2 separate regions of the Homo sapiens genome follow, and region 2 is linked to region 1. The links come from fine-mapping of genetic effects on gene expression. A gene starts in region 1. The other region holds a variant in brackets. All regions are shown on one strand. Distances are between the middles of the regions.

What was found.
Region 2: its variant is fine-mapped to the expression of NEMP2 in nasal epithelium (TOPMed, PIP above 0.99).

Annotation. Positions count from the first base shown.
Region 1 is chr2:190,533,579-190,536,491 of GRCh38, forward strand. NEMP2 (nuclear envelope integral membrane protein 2) reads right to left here and starts at 1,144. Exons shown (of 9, transcript NM_001142645.2): 1 at 981-1,144. The coding sequence starts at 1,077. NEMP2-DT (NEMP2 divergent transcript) reads left to right here and starts at 1,260. Exons shown (of 5, transcript NR_183903.1): 1 at 1,260-1,543. RefSeq lists a silencer at 808-1,457.
Region 2 is chr2:190,566,083-190,568,995 of GRCh38, forward strand. NEMP2-DT (NEMP2 divergent transcript) reads left to right here. Exons shown (of 5, transcript NR_183903.1): 2 at 1,991-2,193. It also overlaps a transcript of NEMP2 not described here. Among named protein-coding and RNA genes, the nearest start is that of NEMP2-DT, 33 kb to the left of the region's middle. The variant A/G (reference allele first, on the strand shown) is at 1,607.

The DNA.
Region 1 (2,913 bases):
ATCTGATAATGACCTCATCAACATCCAGTCTCTCATTCATCCTTAGATAAAAAACCGCGGTATAACCGGAGGGAGGGCCATGCCCAGCTAAAAGAATACACTTGGCAGCCTCCCTTGAAACCAGGGTAGCCAAAGCAAGGAAGGGAAGTTGGTAGACAGTGCACCCAGGAAATCTTTTAAAAGATTTTATGAGGGGAAAAAAAAAAAGAAACAGAAATGTGAAGCTCATGGTAAGTTAGCGGCAGGTCTGGAGTTGGAACTCTAGGTTTCTGACTTCCCCAGGTGTCCTTCCCAGATCCTTCCCCAGTGTGCCAGCATCTTAAGCCCACTCCGTGGCGAGCCCCTACAGCTAGCAGCCGCTACCAGTTCTTGCTTCCTGTGTGCCAGGCATTGTGCACACGAACACCACAAGAACCTTGTGAGGCCTCATTACCTGCCGCTCACGTGGGACCGTTATGTTTACTCGCTCAAGGTCACAACAGTCAGGGGCAGAAGAATTTTCGCTCCGATTCTGAAGCTGAAGCTGTTACCTTCTCTAGTCTTGAGACCAAAGGAATGCGAGATAGTGAAATAACAAGGATTTCAACACGCATTGATGTACTGTACAAAAGGCCGTGTGCTGAAAGTCTGGAGACTAGGGTCAGCTGTGCCAGTGACAAGCTGTGTGACCCTGGGCAAATCAAAACCTCTCTGAGTTTCGGTTGCTTCTGTAAAACGAGGGAATTGGGCGACTGGATCGCGCGGTTGCTTCTAATTCTAAAATTACAAAATGTCCAACTGCCAGGCGAGAGACTACGGAAGCCCAGTAAGACAGGAAGGGCGGGCGGGGCCTGCCCGGGAGACCCCAAAGCGAGAAAAGGGAGCGCCCGCCCCAGTGGGCCTCGCGGTGCCGCCCGGGCCAAAGAGCGCGCCCTCAGGGCAGCCGCGAAGCCGGGGAGCGAGCACGCACGCGCGCGCCGCCGCCGCCGGTCCCGGGTTACCTGATAACGCTGCCGCCGCCGCCTCCCCGCGCACGGGCAGTGTGGCCAGGGGCGGCAGCCAGAGCAGCAGCCACCACCGCCCTTGGCGCGGCCCCATTTCGTTAGGGGTCAGCTCCGTGCGACCCGAGCCCTAGGGGACCGGCTCCGCTGCGAGGAGCGGAAGTGGCGCGGGGGCTCAGAGAAGGCGGAGGGGGCGGTGAGGCCCGAACGCGGGAAAGGCGGAGACCCCGCCTCCCCGGGGCGGAGGGAGAGTTGGGCTCGTTGCTCCAGCCTCCGCCCGCGGCCTCGGGGCACGGCGGGCCCAGGCCGGAGGAGCTTTCGGTGGCGCGACCCCGCTGGCATGCTCCCGGCCTCGGCCTCGGCCTCGGCCTTGGCCTCCGGGCCTCCAGCGCACGCGGGGCGTCCAGGGCCTCATCTTCCCCTGGGGACCGCCCGGCCGTGTCCCGCTGCCCTCGGCGCAGGGGTGGGAGTTGCAGAGAGGAAGAGTCGCTAACCCGGAGTGTTTCTTAAAACTTGGCTGACCTGTGACCTGCGGATTTGGAGGCTGAATTCTCCGAGCACCTGTGAGTGACAGCCCGTGAATGGGAAGGTCCTTCGGCAAACGCCCTTTTTGTGAATAAAATACATAAAAGCCAGTTTCTTTATTTTACCTTTCTGTTTATCTTTTTACTTTCATTTGGTAACAAGCAATAACAAATTGGAAATTTGGCCGCTTAAGTAACACTGACTTGTATGTCTAATCTCGGACACGGCATTTCAGAGTACAGAGGGGCTCGTAAAATGTTCCTTCACCAACATGACAAGGTTCTCTTAAAATTACCTTATGTTAAAAAAAAGTTTCTTAATGTAATAGATATATTTTTAAATTAACATATAACCTGAATGATCTTAATACTGATAATTAGGAGATATACATATATTTTAAAGAACATTCCCTCCACAGGACCTGGAACCCATTAATTTGACTCAATATTCCATACTTAACTAGGACAGTCTTCTCTAATTCTGGTCTTTTGGTGAGATATCTTAGAGAACCCAAAGTAACAGAAATTATCCTGTTAAAAATAGATAAGCCTCATTTTTCCTAAAAGTCTGAGTAGGATGGACTAGGCTTTCCTTGCCCTCAAAGAAAGGTTTAACCAACTGCCCTTAAGCACTTGGCACCATGTGTACACCATGTATGGCTTTTAAAAAGTTAAGAAATTTCCTTGTAAGGGACTCTTCAGAGGGATGGTTTTTAAAAATAAACCATCATTACTTGAGTGAAGCCTGTCTTCAGAGAAACAGCAGAGCCCTGATCCAATTCTTTCCTGTATTCCCAGGTGCGGTGTGCACTTGCTTCTTGCAAGACAGCTTTTGTACCTAACCACATTCATTTTGATTTGGTTTAATTTTGGATGGCACTATGGAAAGTAGCTAAAATAAACAGGTGGGTTGTTGAATGATGAATGTATTTTCTACAGATATATCTGGTGGAGAAACAAAAGGGCAGGCAGCAATGTACTAAATATTTAAAGTGCTATTTATATCACAGATCCTTAGTAAATATCTGTAAAGAAGCTATATTGAAACACCACATTTTTCTCTATAAGCAATAAATATTTTTCCGGAGATAACAAGAATGTTAGGAGGTGATAGTTCTGTCACTGGGGGACAATCATGAAATTCCACTTAACCTCTCCAAACTTTTCTTCTGTATGAAAACCTTATCCACTGGGGGAAGGGCAGGAAGCTTTACCACCAACAGGATCCTGGCAAAGACCCCCTGCTTCTGGAGAAGAGATAGAAGCACAAACCTTCTGCCCTTTGGGGAGCAGCAGGAGCAGGAAACACTAGGGCTCTGTGTCCTGAACCAATAGAAAATTGAAGTTGGCTACTGCTGGGAAACCCTCTCTCACTCAAGACTCACCACAGATAAAGGAAGGATTTGGCT
Region 2 (2,913 bases), 33 kb after region 1:
ACTGAAGAGTCCCCACCAGCAGCCATCTCACAGTCTGGGGCAACTAGTCCCTTCATTGCAGTGTATCTAATGGATATATAATGGTCCATCACAAACATGAAAGAAAATAAAATTCAGTAGACTAGATAGAGAATGTCAGAGAGCATTCTATGAAGAGAAAGTAAATATTGTTTCACAAAACATTTTTGTCTTTATAAATATATGTGAGTGTGTTGACTGGGACTTGATGAAAAAGAATTTCTTACTGTCAGGTTTACTGGGCACAGTGGATCATGCCTGTAATCCCAGCACTTTGGGAGGCTGAGGTGGGAGGATCACTTGAGCCCAGGAGTTTGAGACCAGCCTGGGCAGCATGGCAAAATCCTGTCTGTACTAGAAGTACAAAAAATTAGCTGGGTGTGGTGGCTGAGGTGTGAGATCACCTGAACATGGGAGGTCGAGACTGCAGTGAGCTGTGATTGCAACACTGACTCCAGCCTGGGCTACAGGAGTAAGACTCTGTCTTAAAACGGGAAAGAAAAGAAAGAAAATAAAAAAGAAAGGAAGGGGAAGGGAAGGGAGGGGAGGGGAGGGAAAGGGAAGGGAAGAGAAGGGGAGGAAGAAGGAAGGAAGGAGAGAGGAAGGAGGGAAGAAAAGAAAGAAAGAAGGAAAGAAAGAAAAGAAAAAAAAAGAAAGGAAGGAAGGAAAGAAAGATTCAGAAGTCACTCACCTAGGAAATATAGGGGGTTTTTTCCCCAAAAAAGTTAAATATACAACAGATAACAGGTTTTCCATACCATACAAAAGTGAAACCCATCACTCTACAAACACCGTCTACCCACACAGAGCTCTTCGTCAGCTTTTGAGTGCTCTATTCTTAAATATAAGTCGGCAAAAAAATACCATGAGGCATGTAAATCATACCTCTAACCTAAAAGAGAGGAGGAAACATGAAAAACAGAAAATGGAATATAAAGGGAAACTATAGAAAATAGAAAAATACTGTTTAAATGCTAATTTATAGCCTGAAAAATTATGAGATTTGTATCTATAAAATAAAAGCAGAATGCGATGATAAAAGAACAATTAGATAAAAAAGGAAGGAGCTCTTGGAAACTAAAAATATAATTTTAAAAACTTCAGTAGTAGGAGTAGGAGATAAAGTTGAGGAAGTCTGCTGAAAATAGAACCAAAAGATGAGTAGATTAACAATAAGAAAGGAAAGGTATGAGACTTAGACTATCCATCTAGTAGGAACAATATCTGACTACAAGGAGCTCAAGAAAGAGAAGAAATGGAGGAAAAAGTATACAAGAAAAGTTCCCAGAACTGAAGGCTATGTCTAAAAATCGAAGGTACCAAGTACTCAACACAACAAATAAAAAACGGCCCACACCAAGGCACATCATTGAGATGTGTCAGACCATTGGGAATAATGAGAGAATCCCAAAAGCTTTCAGAAGAAGAAAAAAGAATTAGTCTTATGCTAAGAGTAGGTATCAGAATGCATCAGACTGCTTGCTCAACTACAATATTGGACTAGGGAAAGCAATGAACGATGCCTTAAGAATTATGAGGGATAATTTCATTTATTTATTTATTTATTGAGATGGAGTCTCGCTCTGTC[A/G]CCAGGCTACAGTGCAGTGGCATGATCTCGACTCACTGCAACCTCTGCCTCTTGGGTTCAAGTTATTCTCCTGCCTCAGCCTCCCAAGTAGCTGGGACTACAGGCATGCACCATCATGCCCAGCTAATTTTTGTATTTTTAGTAGAGACAGGGTTTCACCATGTTGGCCAGGATGGTCTCGATCTCTTGACCTTGCGATTCGCCCGCCTTGGTCCCCCAAAGTGCTGGGATTACAGGTGTGAGCCACTGCATCCAGCCAGGATAATTTCTTTTAAACCTAGAATGCAATACCCAGCTAAACTATCAATGAAGTGTGAGAGCAGAATAAAGATAATTTCAAACAGAGGAATTCAGAAAACTTATGTCTCATGTATCCTTTTACAGGAAGCTACTGCAGGATATAATCTAAGAAAATAAGGGGAAGAAAACAAGAAAGAGGAAGACATTGGATCCAAGAAATGGGGGATCTATCACCTTACAGATGAAAAGAGAATCTACATGATCTTTGTGAAGGTGATTTGAGCATAGCAGCTCTGCAGGAAACCTGGAGAGCAACAAGTGAGATTAATACAGGACACACAGCTCTAGTAAGGATGTCACTAAGGAAATTAAAATCATTTGTTGTAGAATACTTTATGAATCAATGCAGTAAGAGGAGGTTTACACTTCTGGTGAAGAATAGGGAATGAATTTGTGATAGGCATGTAGAAAATTATGCAAACAAATAAAATAATAATCAACTCCTGGGAAAATAGGAATTTGTACCAAAAGTGTCAATATAATCTTATATATATATGCCTCAGTTTTGAATAATATTTGTCATTTTAATTATGTAAAAACTGAATAATTATCGGCCGGGCACAGTGGCTTACGCTTGTAATCCCAGCACTTTGGGAAGCTGAGGCAGGTGGATCACCTGAGGTTAGGAGTTCGAGACCAGCCTGACCAACATGGAGAAACCCCGTCTCTACTAAAAATACAAAATTAGCTGGGCGTGGTGGCGCATGCCTGTAATCCCAGCTACTCTGGAGGCTGGGGCAGGAGAATCGCTTGAACCCAGAAGGCGGAGGTTGCTGTGAGCCGAGATTGCGCCATTGCACTCCAACCTGAGCAACAAGAGCAAAACTCCATCTCAAAACAAAACAAAACAAAACAACAAAAAACTCAATAATTATCAGAGAAAAACACTGTAATATAACTATATTGAAAGAATAAGAAGAGAATGTAAGAGACTAAATCCGTATCTCCCACAGAAGGGAGTCATAGATAATAATATCTGGAACTGAAAAAAAAATCAAGAAACAGCA